Linked DNA regions of Homo sapiens: region 2 is linked to region 1. The links come from fine-mapping of genetic effects on gene expression. Tissue or cell type: whole blood. Region 1 holds a variant in brackets; the other region holds the start of a gene. All regions are shown on one strand. Distances are from middle to middle.

What was found. PIP is the estimated chance that this variant, and not a neighbour inherited with it, causes the effect.
Region 2: it holds the start of ANKRD6, and the variant in region 1 is fine-mapped to the expression of ANKRD6 in whole blood (TOPMed, PIP 0.97).

The regions. Positions count from the first base shown.
Region 1 is chr6:89,364,880-89,372,986 of GRCh38, forward strand. It overlaps RRAGD (Ras related GTP binding D), which reads right to left. Exons shown (of 7, transcript NM_021244.5): 6 at 7,558-7,706; 7 at 1-3,328. The coding sequence ends at 3,177. Among named protein-coding and RNA genes, the nearest start is that of UBE2J1, 16 kb to the left of the region's middle. RefSeq lists enhancers at 3,158-3,387, 7,211-7,505, 7,415-7,634, 8,005-8,107. The variant G/A (reference allele first, on the strand shown) is at 3,936.
Region 2 is chr6:89,429,831-89,437,937 of GRCh38, forward strand. ANKRD6 (ankyrin repeat domain 6) reads left to right here and starts at 3,322. Exons shown (of 16, transcript NM_001242809.2): 1 at 3,322-3,545. LOC124901360 (a long non-coding RNA gene) reads right to left here. Exons shown (of 2, transcript XR_007059675.1): 1 at 3,587-8,107; 2 at 378-2,757. RefSeq lists a silencer at 3,114-3,593.

The sequences.
Region 1 (8,107 bases):
ATGCTTTTAAATTGGCAGTTAACATTCTTGAAAGCAATGGCTTAACAATGGTTATTAAGTGATGTACTGCTTAAAGTAAAACATGGACTATACCTGATTACAAATTACATCCAGTCTGTACAAGTTGAATACATACCATACTTTAATAACCAAGACAATTCAGCTGTTTTTCCAGAGTATATTTCAAACAGAGTTGGCATATAACCCGTATGTAACAATATTGCTGTGATTTTAGTCATATTTAAGGGTCCAAAATATGTTCACAAAAGAACAGTTTGTGAATGTCAACCAGTTTTTGCTTTATATTCCTTCAAAAACATTCCACCCTGGTCATTCACACTAATCTACATCACTGAAAATAACCAAAATAATTCACAGTCTCACCTCTATGTAAAAATTCTAATTGACTCAACAGGGAAAGGACTGCCCTGCTCCTTTTGAGGAAGGAAACCTGCAAGGCAAGTTCTCAATCCCTAAAACCAAGCAAAAATGTTCCAGTGCAGTTGCTGTAGCCATGTATTTAGGATTTGTATTTATAGAATTAAATTTGAGAATGAAACATGGCCATACACATCGCAATAAGCTGCCTCTCATATCAAAAATACAATGCAAAATGACTTGAAGACATTTCCAATAACACAGATTTGAAAAACTGAACGCTTAGACATAACTCCTGCATCTTTCTTTAATTAAGAAGTCATTGCCACACTTACAAAGTTAGAGGCAGTAATCTATATTAGCGTGTGATTAATCAAAGAGTACACTTACTACCATGAACTTGGGCCCTATGTCATAGAATTATTTTTGCCTTTCCCCCAAAGAATCATTTGCTCTTGAAGTAATAGGCTTTTTAAGGCACATTTTAACAAAAACCCATCATATACCCAGCTTAAACATGGAAGCTCCAACCTGGTTATAGTAATAAATATACCTAAGTAATGTGTGATTTACCAAATAGGCTAGTGTCTCTAGCTTGAGGATAAAGTCATATTAGAAAACTGATTCTTCATTTGCTTATTCAAAGTGAAACAACATGTAAAAAATATTAGAGAATTAGATTTATAACAATAACCCCTAAGTGTCAGGTCTGTTGGCAAAGGTCCAACAGGATATAGCTCTGGAAATCAGGGAGCCCTGGGCTCCTAACCATCCAGGTTTCGGAGTAGGAATCATGAGGAAAGGAGTTAGGGCACCTTAATTATTTTTAGAAATCTCCTTTCAAAATGCACAGAACCTTGGGAGGCTCAAACCTTAAACACCAACCAGATATCATCTTAAATTCAGTTACCAGCTTCAAAGAAACAGGACTTGGGGAGAGGAAGGAGAGAGGTTGGAAAGAAGCCACAGAGAGAAGTGGGAAAGTTTAGGCTGGGCACAGTAGCTCAGGCCTGTAATCTCAGCATTTGAGGAGGCCAAGGCAGGAGGATTGCTTGGGGCCAGGAGTTTGAGACCATCTTGGGCAACACAGTGAGATCCTGTCTCTACAAAAACAAAATTTAAGAATTAGCCGGGCGTGGTTGTGCACACCTGTAGTTCTAGCTACTAGGGAGGCTGAGGTGGAAGGATCCCTTGAGCCCAAGAGGTAACAGTGAGCTATGATTGTACCAATGTATTCCAGCACAAGCAACAGAATGAGGCCCCCCTCTAAAAAAAAAAAAAAAAAAAGTTTCAAGTATAAGTTGCTTTAGGGACTTTATATATTTTGCTAGGACCAACTTTGATGTTCTTAGGAGGCTCTGCTTTAAAAAAAAAAAAATCTCATTTTCTAATGCCCCACAAGCATGCCTTAGGGTGCTAACCCTTGAGATGCACGTAAAATTATCTACTTGGAATGATTTGGCATAGGGGTAGATTTAGGACTCTTAATTTCCTGTTAGTCTAAAGTAAACATAAGTGAAATAATTTCACAGAAACAATTACACAGCTAATTGTAATGTCTCTCCAGCCATCCTTTTCCCACTGACCTTTAGGGGTCTTCAGGATGACTCTTCAGCCTTGCAGAGCATGCTGGTGGCAGGCTGAGCTTGGCTTAATCATAAGGTGGGAACAAGTGGAGTACATGAGGCATGTTATCACCAGTGAGAAGGAGATGTGGAGGTGACAAAAGTGACTAACAGGATTGAGCTCCATGGTGGGGTTCTGCGATTTGTTCTATTCACTATGGTCATGGAGCAATAAAGAACTGGTCCTGAATAAGCATTTTAAATGCAGCACACCAGACCATCGCACAGGGCCAAAAGTCCAGAATTGTATCTATGTTTTTTAGTCTGCAGTTGCCAATCACATACTTTTGGAACAACTTTAGGCCTCTGATGTTACTTTAGCCCTGGGTGGTAGGTACAGAAAAGCCTCCAGAAACCCTACAATTCAGTGACATTCTTACTTCTCTCCAGTGTTCGGCACCATTTTGGAAATCTGGTCCCAAAGTTTCAAAAGAATACTAATGCAACAAAAAGAAATAACCTCTCTGTATAAAGTGATTATAGAGATGTGTGTTGAGGTAAACAGCTTCATAAAAACCGTTGAGCAGGGAAGCACAGCCACTGCTATAGAAATTTTTAGGTAAGTCTGGTGCTAGCATTATTCTACAAAACTGTTTACACCCATTATAAATAGGGGACAGTTCTTATTGCTCCTGGAGCTTGTAGCTCCAATCTGTTCCAGCTCCACTGAAAAATGATTTTTCTCAACAATTGGTAGCAAAGATTTCCAAATTTACAAAAAGTCATTACCAATGCATCACTTTTTGATTAATTTCTGATTGCCATATAGATATGGACTACAGTATGCATGTCCTTGACACCAAGTACAGAAAAAAAGCTTAGAAAAGTCGTTTTATCAAAGTTCAGTTCAATGAGAAACATGAAAAAGTGCAAAATATGTACAATTCCTGGCAGTTCTCACACGGGATTTTTTTGACTACAGACCATAAAAGTTTACATTTGTGTAATGAAATGACAATGGATTTCACATCACTGTTAATATACAAGTTTTTGCTTCAAAGTGCTTACTTTATTTATAAAAGAGAAGATCAAGAGGGTTGCAGGAATTTTTTTTTTTTAACAACAAATCAATGGTATGTGTCCCAATCTCCTTCTTCCTCTTCCTTTAGTGCAACATGGCGCAGCAGCCTCATGGATAAGGTCTGATTTCAAAAGACATTCCTGAAACCTCACCTACAGCAGCACTCTAGGGGTCCCATTAGGGGTGGCTCTCTTTTTCTTCTGCAGCCGATTCTGAACCTTTCGAGATTTTACTACTTTCATTCTCACCTCAAAAACTTCATGAATGGCCTTCCGGAAGCAATGAAAATTATAGTCAATTAGCCCTGGAGAAGAGAACAAAAATATTTATAAATGTCACGTAGAAATAATCTCCATCTTTTCATGGGACCCATGGCCAGGACAAGCCAGTAGGGGGCAGTAGAGGATGGTCTTAGCGTAAGGACCAGAGATTTCCCTGGGATGTCTGCAGCTGGCCTTCAGAAATTGCTATAAATCTTTAGGAATTATAGGCAAAGTCTTGTGAAGGAAGATTTTTCCTGATGCAAGGTTGCAGAGCATAGACCATATTTTCAAAGGTTCCTATGACCCAAAAGATTTAAAGAACGACTGAACTGAACTTTTTTTTTAACCTTTCAGAATTAAAGATTTCTTACAATTAAGAGAAATCTGTAATGAAAAATGTTTCTCCCCAAAGGGCATTATTAGACTGAGTAGAGGCAGATCCTGACTTGGGATCCCAAAGCTGTGTATCAATCAATAAATATTTACTGAGTATCTATTATATTTAAACCATTCTCATAAGCCCGAGGGAAAGCGAAGCCCCTAATTTTAGAGTGTTAACAGTCATCTCGCCAACTCCAGCAGAAATTCAACAACCAATGACACTCAGCTTTTCAGTATTAAGTATTTTAAGTGGAGAAATAGTAGGAG[G/A]GAATCTTCTTGTGTTTTCAGAAATGTATCAGTGACACAAAAAATAGAATAAAAGATAATCCAAAGTCTTGATGAGTGCATTTTTCATCATTACTAGTAATTTGTAAAAGTCCTGAGAGCAACATTATGTTTACACCAATTAGGATAAGGTGGTCAGTTCTATTTACTATCTTTGAATTTATTAAAATAACTAGCCCAACAATTATTTCTATCTATCAGTGGATGCTTCTAGAGCCGCGTCCAAAGGAAGAATTAGGATTCCGGCCAAGGATTAAATTCTTCAAACTAGTTATACAACTAACTGCAAGGGGAGGGCGGGGAGGGCACCGTCTCGGTTTCCAGGAGCAGGAAAACCTCTGAGTAGTGCCCTCTGCTGCTTCTGCAGAGAGAGTGAACCACTAGTGCAGTAAAACCAGGAGTCAATTTCCTCAAGGAAAGACCAATGTCACAAGCAAGGGGAAAAGTAATAAAAACAAAGGAGCAAAGGAACGATTTTTAAATGGCAATTTGAATATGAGATGTGAGAGCCTCAAGATTCTCTGCTTTTATGTGCAACAAACTGTCTTAAAAAGCTTAGCTAAAAGAACTTGGCTCAATGAGAAGGGTACAATGAAATACTCAACTTGGGAAATTTCAGACATATCCTGTTCTTATTTCTGAGGCAGGGTCTCACTCTGTCACCCAGGTGGGAGTGCAAGGCTCAATCACAGCTCATTGCAGTCTCAACCTCCTGGGCTCAAGCAATCCTCCCACCTCATTTTTGAATTTTTCCTAGAGATGAGGTCTCACTATGTTGCCCAGGATGGTCTTGAACCTCTAGGCTCAAGCAATCCTTCCACTTTGGCCTCCCAAAGTGCTGGGATCATAGGCATGAACCACTGGCACCCGCCCCTATTGTTCTTGACAAACCTTAACTTACATATCTTTGCACATTTCAAAATGTAACAGTAATCTTGCTGTGTTTGGAATTTTAAGTAAAAGTTCACAACTGAGGCTTTTTAAAGACAGTAAATATCCATAAACAGTGTTTGCTATTTCAACCCTCATGAAAAGTTTTTGAAAATACATGAACAGAGACATAAACAAAATAAACACTCTCTTCACCCCACCTACAGTTCATAAGGCCCCACATCCTTCTCTGGTTCAGGAGTTCTCAACCCTAGCTGCACAATAAAAACACCCAGGCACCAGGCACACCAGGAGGCCAGGCACAGCACAGCACTTCGGGAGGCTGAGCAGGGAGGATCACTTGAGGCCAGCAACCTTTAGCCCTGACTGCCATAAAGTGGTGGTGTGATGTTGAGAGAAAGTCATTTATATTTTCTAGGCCTGAGTAAAATCATCTGTGACATGAGAGGGTGAAACAAGGTGTATTCCTGTCTATCTTTAAAATTCCGTGATCTATTATATAATCTGTTCTTGTTTCTAGCAAGATGAAAATAAGGAGTAAAAGATGAACACCATTTAATTTACAGTTCTGAGGCCAAAGGACACAAAAGGCAATTTGGTCAGTCATGGTACACACAGGAAAAATACAGGACATCACTAAGCAGCAAGAAAATGTAAATTCACATAATATACCAGTTTTCAGTTAACAACTTTTAAAAATACTAATACCCAATATTGATAAGAACACAGCAAAATAAGTATTCATATTCTCTTCGCAGCATAAAACCAGAAAATCTTTCTGAAGAACATTTTGGTAATATGCATTAGAAGCCCCCAAAATGGGCCTACCCTTTTGATCTAAGTAATTCCACTTTAAATTTTTCCTTAGGAAACAACCAAAGATGCACATAAATATTTAGTGCAAAAGAGGTCATAATGATATTATTTATAACATTAAAATCTAGAAACAACATAGATGTCTGAAAATAGAAGAATCTAATACAATCATTAAAATGATGTGGTTAAAAAAAGACGGTGAATTGGAAACATGTCTGTAATAATTTAAGTGAAGGTTATAAAGTAGAATTCATCATACAATCTATCATAGTCCTTTTAGAAAATGCATATGCAAGAAAGGACTGGAAAAGTATACAGGAAATGTTAAGAGTAGTTATCTGAATGAGAAACATCGATAATTATTGTTTTTTTGCTAAATATTATTTCTAAATTTTCTAAAAGAATCTATTACTTTTCTGATAAAAATAAACAATGTAAATTAAGTTTTCATGGCCAATGAATTAGGAAAATTTCATGATATACGTAAGTGAAATATATGTAATATAAAATATAAATATTTTCATATTTGTATTAAATATAAAACTATATTAGAATATAAAACTATATTAGACAATATGGCCCCAGTTTTGTTGGAAGGAAGGAAAAAAAGGAATGAAGGAAGGGAGAAAAGGAGCGAGGGTAGGAGGGAGAGGAAATAAGAGAGAAGGGCCAGACGTGGTGGCTCACTCCTTTAATCCCAGCACTTTGGGATGTCGAGGTGGGAGGATCACTTGAGCCGAGGAGTTTGAGACCAGCCTAGGAAACATGGTGAGACCCCAATCTCTACCAAAAACAAAAAAAAATTCCAGGTTGTTGACATGTGTCTGTGGTCCTAGCTACATGGGAGGATGAGGTGGGAGGATCACTTGGGCCCGGGTGGTCAAAGCTGCAGAAAGCCATGACTGTGCCACTGCACTCCAGCCTAAGTAACAGAGCGAGATCCTGTCTCAAAAAAGAGAGAGAAAGGGAGAAAGAAAATCCCAGAAATTTAACATGGGTTTAGCTCTAGATGGTGAAATACCTGGTTTTATTCTACATACTTTCCTAAATTTTCAAAGCATTTTTAATTTAATGGGCTTATATTGCTTATAATATAGAAGAAAAAGGCTATTTCAGGATATGTTACTATAACATATTCAGGATATGTAACTATTTGTTGGAGATTTTCTTTTACCCAACAAATTAGTAAACCATACCCTATTACTAACAAAAGTCCCTAGCCATATCAGTAAGCTAGGGACTTCTGTTAGTAACTTTTGTTTAGATATTATAGAAGGGGGAAATTAGTTTAATTGCTTTTGTTTCAAAATAAAACTGAATTTGATCCTAAAAAAAATTTGGTGGAGTTAAATATATTCATGGTCTTCCCTTTCCGGAATCATGATGCCATCCCTGTGTTCTGAAGATTTAAGAAGTATTTTGAGGCTGAACAGAAGTCAAACCACCTGTTGTCCCCTCCTTTACATGGGAAGAACAAAAGATCACACGGTTACCTAAGACCTTCTAGAGGTGTGGAGCAAAGTGGAGACCTCCACCCTCAGTATAGGCTGGGAGTCTGCTCCCTGGTAAGAGACTTCATTCACAGCCTGGCAACAGTGCCCCAACTAGCTTCCCCCTAGCAGAGATGCCAAGGCCCCTGGGAGGATCATGGGGTTCCACTTCCACCTCGCTGCAATCGCAGATGCACCACTAGAGGGCAGGCCAGTTCACTGGCCCAGAAGCTGACACTGGGGGCAGGAGCCCGCCCCGCTCTGAACTCCAAGCCAAGAGGGCCTGTGACTGGCATCTGGAAGTTTCGAGGGCTATGCTGTTGTCCACCCACATTCAACAAACAATACATGCAGTAGCAGTCTGATGCTTCTTTTAATGCTTCTTTTAAATCACACCAAAAAGTTACCTTTTCTTTCAAAGCTTTCCTCTCTGACAAAGCAAACGAGAGCCAGGAACTTTGTCACCTCTTTTAAATAAAGCACGGTTGTATTATTAAGCTTTATGATGGCTGTGGATTCCTTGTCATAGGGGGTTCCTGCTCCATCTTCTTTGAGACTAAATGGGGACAGAAACCAAAACATGTGACCATTGAGAAAGAACTAGAAACTGTAAGCCAGTGACAAGAGACCGGCTTTAAGCCACAAAAAGTGATAATCATAAGTTGTTTACACTTGCAGTGCCTTTCAGCAAAAGAGCTCAGAAACACACAGGCACAAAAACATACACAGTCCTCAACAGTCATTTCCTACTGACAATGAGTGGCTGTCTGCAGCAGCTGGGACACTCTCCAGGCACCTGAAGAAGCCAGTTGAAGGATGAGGTTAGCTCTCCCCACCTCCGTGGCCAAGGGCTTCTTGTTTTCTCACCTAGAATAGCCAGGCTGTCAAAAGCGTGGTCTGATGAAAGACTAAGAAAGGCTGAAGATATGTTCCAAATTCAAGGAGTCTAAAGAGACC
Region 2 (8,107 bases), 65 kb after region 1:
AATTTTAGAAAACAACCAGTTTAGACAGTTTGACATTACCTAGTAAATTTGAACGTGCACTTACCTTAAGACCTGATGATTCCACTTCTAGGTATATATCCTAAAAAACATTCTTACACACATGTATCGGAGAAATATTTAAGAATATTCACAGCAACACTGTTTGCAATAGCAAAAACTGGAGCCAATCCAACATCCAAAAGTAGAATGGGTAATTAAATTGTGTTATGTTTTTACAACAAAATACCTATATAACAGAGAAATCAGATAGGTGAATCTCAGAAACATAATGCTGGGCAAAAGCTGCAAGTTGCATGGGAATAATGCAGAATGATTCTATTTTAAAAAAGCTCAAAAACACGCAAAAACAAACCATGTAGTGTTTAGGGACACATATATTTGTGATAACATAATTATTAACACAAAACTTAGGATGGTGGTTTCCTCTGAAAGAGAAGGATATGATTATAGAGCGGCAGATGGAAGGGTTCTTCCTTGAGTGGAAGCTTTAGCAAAGGCAGTTTCAGTGGAGTGGCAGGGATGGAAGCCAGAATGGTGTGTTGAAGGCTGCGTTGAAGCTAACAACATGAAAGACAGCTAATGCAGTCAGCTCATTAAAGACATGTTGTTGAAAATAGGAGCAGATTATATTATCACAAAGCAGTGAAAATGATCATTTGCAGAGCAAACTTCTTTCTCACAAGGCAGAAGGAGGGTGAGCTAGGGTGAATATAAGAGGCTGGCTGTGATTGAGCTGAACGTAGGGGCAAGAACAGAGCTGCAGCCTGGGAGCCCTTCTCATAAAGAGGGAGATTTAGGAGTCTTCTTCGTTGGTCGCCCAAAGACTGTCTGCCCACTTGGAGATAAGCAAGCAAGATCTCCAAGCAGCTCAGCCACTGCCTGCTTTGGCTCTCATGAGACCTCCTGCCAGGAATCCCCATTAATCAAAGTCTGGGAACAAAAGCAGACCAGTCAGTTCCCAGGAGCGCTCACATGTCTTGCAGGCTGGCTTGGGCTTTCTGTTTCTTTCGGGGTCATTGCTCTGACTACCCACAAATATAACTTAAAATCTCATCTCAATGTGACTTTCTGGTGATGTTTTAAAAGCCTATCAGGGAAACTGAGCATTTGCATCTTTGGAAGTTTATTCGAGGGACTAGCTAGGAAAACTCAATGTGGAAAAGTACAAGAGAGAAATGATCACATTGAAAGGTCATGTGGCTGGGCGCGGTGGCTCACACCTGTAATCCCAGCACTTTGGGAGGCTGAGGCAGGTGGATCACAAGGTCAGCAGTTCGAGATCAGCCTGACCAACATGGTGAAACTCCGTCTCTACTAAAAATACAAAAAAATTAGCTGGGCGTGGTGGCAGGCGCCTGTAATCCCAGCTACTTGGGAGGCTGAGGCAGGAGAATTGCTTGAAACCGGAAGGTGGAGGTTGCAGTGAGCCGAGATTGCACCACTGCACTCTAGCCTGGGCAATAAAAGCAAAACTCCATCTCAAAAAATAAAAAGAAAGGTCATGTGTACAAACTTTGACTTTGAGGGTTATCTAGGAACTCATTAGTAACCTGCCTGGAGAGAAACCTGGAGCTACAAGCCAGCAGAGAAAGGAAATGTGTTCTTCTATCAGCTCCAGGTGTAGAGCAACAGGAATGGGGCACAAATCTGAAGAAGGGCTGGGCGCGGTGGCTCACACCTGTAATCCCAACACTTTGGGAGGCTGAGGCCGGAGGATTACTTGAGCCCAGGAGTTCAAGACCAGCCTTGACCTCCTCTGTGTTAAACATAAAAAAATTAGCTGGGCATGGTGGTGCACACTTGTAATCCCAACTATTCAGGAGGCAGAGGCAGGAGGATTGCTTGAGCCCAGGAGTTCAAGACTGCAGTGGGCTACTGCACTTCAGCCTGGGTGACACAGCAAGGCCCCATCTTAAGGGGGAAAAAAAAGTCTGGAAAAGGCCAAAGGATACTCAGAAGAGAGATTTCACATCCTGTTAGGTAAAACTGCAGCTGTGACTATGGGGTTGGGAAAATTTCAGAAGCAGTAGGAGAAAATCAAGAACTTCCCCTTCCTAGTGTGGAAACAGGCTCTTGGGATCTCTCCTGCCTAATGATCCCTGAAGGAGAGAGGGAAACAAACATCTTAAGGAAAAGGAAGAAATCATCATGTTTCTTTTCTCCTGGAAACCAGGCCTGTTTCAGAGGGAATAAGAAAAGTCGGCTGGGTGCAGTGGCTCATGCCTGTAATCCCAGCACTTTGGGAGGCCGAGGCTGGAGGATCACGAGGTCAGGAGTTCGAGACCAGCCTGACCAATATGGTGAAACCCCATCTCTACTAAAAATACAAAAATTAGCCAGGGATGGTGGCGGGCACCTGTAATCCCAGCTACTCAGGAGGCTGAGGCAGGAGAATCACTTGAACCTGGGAGGCGGAGGTTGCAGTGAGCCTAGATGGTGCCATTGCACTCCAGCCTGGGTGACAGAGTGAGACTTCGTCTCAAAAAAAAATTTTAAGCAAGAAAGAAAAAAAAATCAGATTCGTGATAAGCTTGTCCCAAAACCTCAGGTAAGATTGATAGTCCATTTTAGGGTGCTGCTTGCCTCCTCTTCCATCTCTCCGCCTTTGGAGAGCAGATACCTGTCCATGCTTCTTCAAAGGGTGGAATGAGATCCCATCCATCTTACATGTATTCAACAGTAGCTTATTGAATGCTTCCTGTGTTCAGGGAGCTCTTCTAGGTATTGAAGAAGTGGCTGTGAATGAAAATAGACAAAACCAGACTGAGATAATGGTATGTAAAGTGTGATATGAATATGGGGGTCAGGCTCGCTCAATGCTTTTGCCATTTCCATATGGGATGATTCCAACAAGATACTTATAGTCAAGCTGTTAGAAATAAAGGCTTCCTTTCCCCTCTCCAGCTACCCCAATAAATCTGGGTCATTCATCATTGTTGTTCAGTTTGTACTGAGCAGCCCCAGTTAAGTGAGCTATGGTTATATTGAAATATCCACTTGGCCACGAATTGAGTGAAGGTGGGAGGTTCCTCCTGCTAATTCTCCTCCCCTCCCAATACACTTCCTGGCAACCCCCACGCGGAAAACCTCACCCTACTATAGGCCCCCTTCCTCCCACTCTTCAGAAGGCGGTGGCCCCACCCAGGAGAGGGCTGCAGATCGGGGCCAGCCCCAGGGCCTCCGCGGTGCCACCTCTCTCTCGCGAGGGTCCCTGCCGTGCCCCGGCTCGCCGCTGGGAGGCGCTGCGGCACCGGCGTAGGAGCCGCCGGCAGGGGTGGGGCGGGGCCGGCGGGACGGGGCAGAGGGCCCTGCGGCGGCGGACGCGGCGGGCTCGGCCACAGGTAACCCGCAGGAGCCGAGAGCGCTGCCTGGCGCGCGGGCGGCTGGAGGCACGGCGCTGGGCGGCGCCGAGGCCCTGGGGCCGCCGGAGCCAGCGGGAGCCAGTCCCCGTCTTCGCCCCTCGCCCCCCACCGTGTCGCCGGCCTTGGTCCCTGCGGCGCGGACGTCCGGCGCGGGAGAGAAAGGTACCAGGCGACCTCGCCGGCTCCCTGGGACCCCCGCTTACACCGGGGTGGGCGCCTCAGGTCGGGGAGGACGCTGTCGGGGGAAGGGGGCGCTGCTCCCTCGGCACCCCAGGATCGCCGACTGCCCGCGGAGGAGACCCGGACACCGCGCCTCGCCCCCTGGCCTGCGGCCTCCGAAAACGCCCGGCGCGAGGGGGTCCCCCCGGGGCGCCTCCCTCTTCGCCTGGCATCAGTTGCCTCCCTGGAATATGGAACTTCGGGCGAGGGAGGTGGAGAACTTTCTTCTGGGGCTCGTCCCTCGTTCTCCTGCTCGCTTGCAGTTTGAAGGAAGGGCGGTGGGGGCGGGGGTCCGAGTACCCCGCGGTCTGCGGCGCGTAGGAGGGTAGGTCCCTGGCCTGCGGCCGCCTCCGAATGACCCCGTCCCTCCCCGCCCTGGACGACAGCACTAGGGTGCAGTCGCAGGAGAGGGGCCGATACCCCTCAGGAGCCCCATCGGCGAAGCCTCAGCAAGTGGCATCTCCCGGGGTCCAGAGAGTCGGCGTGCTGTCTGGTTTGGGTCCAGACATCAGCTCACCCAAGCTTATCTTGGGCTTTTAAGTGTGTTGCTTCCGGTAGATCTCGGGGACTGGAGGGGAAGTGCAGCATTATTTGTGACCCAAGAGGGACTTGAATGTCTCAAAGCTGGTCAAGAATGTTTCCCCCGCGAGGTAGCATGAGATGGGTCACGTGGTAGTAAAGAGCCACTTCGGGCCCGTGAGATGGAGTTCTGACTCCACCACTTGTTAGGTGTGTGACTTTGGAAAACCCACTTCTTTAAACCTTAGTTTTTAGAACTCTAAACTGCAGGTATTGTACATAACCTCGTAGTATTGTGTTCATGCAGTGAAGTGATGGGAATGAAATGCTTGGCATTGTACTCTTGTGTGTTAGACACCTTTTGCGAACCTGTTGGATGTTGAATTCATTCATGCTTAGGTTCTGTTAGGCCAGTGTAAGTGGAAAGAACTTGGGCAATGAAGACAAACACACCTGGGTCCAAGGTGGTCCCATCCATGGTATACTGATTGGGGGTTTCTCATCCCCAAAACACCAATAGCAGCCTTGGCGGGGTTTTTGTTGTTGTTGTTTTGAGACAGAGTTTCGCTCTGTTGCCCAGGCTGTAAGCTTTGACCTCCTTAGCTCAACCGATCTTCCCACCTCAGCCTGGGACCACCACACCTGGCTAATTTTGAATTTTTTTATTTTACTAGAGACAGAGTCTCACTGTGTTGCCTAAGCTGGTCTCGAACTCCTCCTGTCTCAGCCTCCCAAAGTGTTGGGATTACAGGTGTGAGCCACTGTACTGGTCTGCAGCCTTGTTCTTGAGTGTAGTAGGTGTGTCTATACCGATACATGTTACACTTTGTCATCTTTAGTATTTGTTTAGCATATGGTAACAAAAAATTTTTTAAAAATTAGGGATACAAATTAAAATTGGGGAGTATTTTCTGCCCTCTAGGTCATACTGGACATGGGGGAAGGGTAGAAGAGGGATGAAGAGGAATTAAAGAGACCAGAAAACAACTAGTCGCAGTGTTGGGAGGTATAAACCAATGGTAATTTTTAAAAATGTGAATTTATTAACTCCTTGTTTTTTCATGGTGGCACCAAAAATTAATCTTAGTCTCCCACTTAAACTCATCAGCCTCCCCAAAGCCTTTCCAGATAAGCATATGCTCCATGTAAAAGCAGACTGCCTGCGATCCAACTCAGCTTAGAGACAAGGCACACTTCCAACTCCCAAGGCCTCCTTCTTGTATAGAGATGCTGGTGCTGCCACTGTGAAATACATCATACACTCAGACAGTATAAACCTTAGAGTGCAATGTAAAGAATAACAATAGATCACACCCAAGTACGAGTCACCCGGCTGAAGAACTAGAACATCGCCAGGCCCCTGGAGCCCCTGAGTACCCCTCTCCATTGCCTTCCACTCACTTCTCGCCTCCCACCCAAGGAACCACTATTCTGGATGTTGTGTTAACTTTTTCCCTTGCTTATATGAAAAACCCTGAGGAAAGGAAGTTTCCCAACAAGCATTTCCACAATAACCTGGAGCATTCTTTATTTTTCTTTTTTTCTCAAGGAGCATTGTTATTGAACTTAAAAGCAGGCTATTGAGGGTAAGATACAAACCACAAAAAAGCCGAAAGTCTCAAAGTCGGGGGATCTTTTAGTCTCTGTCTTCTTCCAAGTTTCTCCTGTCTCCCTGGCACGGATCCCGAAGGTGTGTTCTGTCTGTGTAGGGGAGACCCAGTCTCTTCCAACATAGATTGATGGCTGTGATTTTAAAAGCTTTGCTTGAGTCCCTAAGAAGTGGGAAAACAGTAATTTGGGTGCGTGCGTTTTAGAAGTTTTTTTAAAAATGCAAATTATCCAGAAGGCATTGTGTGGGATTTGAAGGATTAAGCTAAGAGTGACCTTTAAAAATGGTTTTAACAACCCAAATTCCTCTTCCTGGTTGATATGTTTGTGTTATTGTCTTTGTTTTATTTCTTCAAGGTCACATGGCTTTCCTTGGTGAATCTTACACTGTTTTGTTACTTCTTGGTTAAGGCAAAGATTCTGAAACTTGGTTTCATGGAGCCCTTAGTGTCTGAGTTAATTTTTTCACAATTCCCTTAGGCTTCAGTAGTTAGTAATTTTTTCACAATTCCCTTAGGTTTCAGTAGTTAGTAGTTAGGTTCAAACAACTGAGTATTTACTTAGAAGTTGTTTGAAAAAATAATATACATAAACTGAGAGAAAAAATATTTTACATCCTTTAAAGTCATAATTACTAACCGTATGTGTGTGCCTATACTACTTTTCAAACCTTGGGATCGTGTTGGACACTGCCACTCTCATTTCCTGTTTCACATTAATATTTCCGCAGCATTTGGCTTTTATCACAGCAGCCACAGAAAACCCAGCTTTGCAAAGATGTATTGTCTTGGATAGGAATGTAACATGATCTACTGTTGAAACTGCAAACTACCTCCAGTTAATAGGTTCAGCAGTGTCCAGACATGTTTGGTATACTAGTTTCCATTGAAATTTTCAGATTTTCTACATTGCCCATTTTAATTTGCTATAGTTGCAAAACACCCAGTCAGGGGGTCCAAAATAGTAAACTTTGAAAACATTATGCTAGGTGAAATAAGTTAGTCACAGAAGGGACAATATTGTATGATTCTGTTTATATTAGGTACCTAGAGTAGTCATACACATGGAGACAGAAAGTAGAATGGTAGTTACCAGGGGTAGGGGGAGGACAGAATAGGGAATTCATGTACTATTTTTGCAACTTCTATGTAAGACTAATATTATTTCAAAATAAAGTTTTTAAACGTTTTTTAAAAACAAATTCTGTTGATGGTGCCCCACTGCTGGACTGTACCAAGGCACTGAGGTTAGGGACAGCAGCAGAGAAAAGCTTAGGGGTGACATTATCTCTATTTCCCAGCTCTTCCTCATCCCGTCAAGGGGGAAGAGATGGAAGAAATAGCTATGTTCTCTCTCTTTTATAGGGAAGTGTCTGCATTATTTACTGGTGGGTTCCTTTATAAACCTGAGGATCAGCTATTAAATTTGTCACTAAAATAAGAATTTTTAACCTGGGGTTCAGTGGTGGGCTACAAATACTCTAAGATCTCCCAAAATTATGTATAAGTATTTAAGTGAATGCTCTTATGTATGTTTGAGGGGGAAGAAGTTCCATAGCTTTCATCAGATTCTCAAATGGTTTCCTAAGTCAAAAAAGGTTAGTAAGCGCTATAAGGAAATATTTACAGATTCCTACCTACCCCCACCCCATAAAAGGCCCCTTTATTTGGATGTCTTATCCCATTTCAGTTCTCTGACATATCTTTCCCCCACCAGTTACAAGAGGCTTTCTTTCTGCTCAGACCCCAGATAAGCCCGACCAGTTCTTTTTCCTCAGAGCCCCCAGCTATTCATCTGGATCCTGAAAACTCCAGGACCAATTCCTCAAGAGCCAAAGGAAGTCCCAGAATGAACATCTTGGACTTCTGAATAGGGCAGATGTGGAACTGAAGTCTCACAACTGCCACATCTCTCTGTGCCCTCCTTAGGTCTAGAAAAATATGAAGTAAATAATAATATATTAGGTACACAGCTATGGAAAAACTCATGAAGATGGTACTGAATGACTGAAGTCCAGTACATTCTGCTTTGGGGGAGGCAAATTTAATTTTAAGAGTGTCTTCTGGTTTACACTTTATGTTCCAAATGTATTCTAAATATAGCATACAATACGTCCTACCTTGTTTCATATCCAGTGATACAGATGAGCTATAGAATTTACACAGTGTTAGAAAAGATGTTAAATATCAGAATTTACTTAATAAGTAGGTCTCTACTCATTCAGACTGGTTTCATTTTATTTTATTTTATTTTTGAGGCAAGGTCTCGCTGTCACCCAGGCTAGAGTGCAGTGGTGCAATTTCAACTCACTGCAACCTCTGCCTCCTGGGCTCAAAGCCATCCTCTCACCTCAGCCTCCTAAGTAGCTGGGACTACAG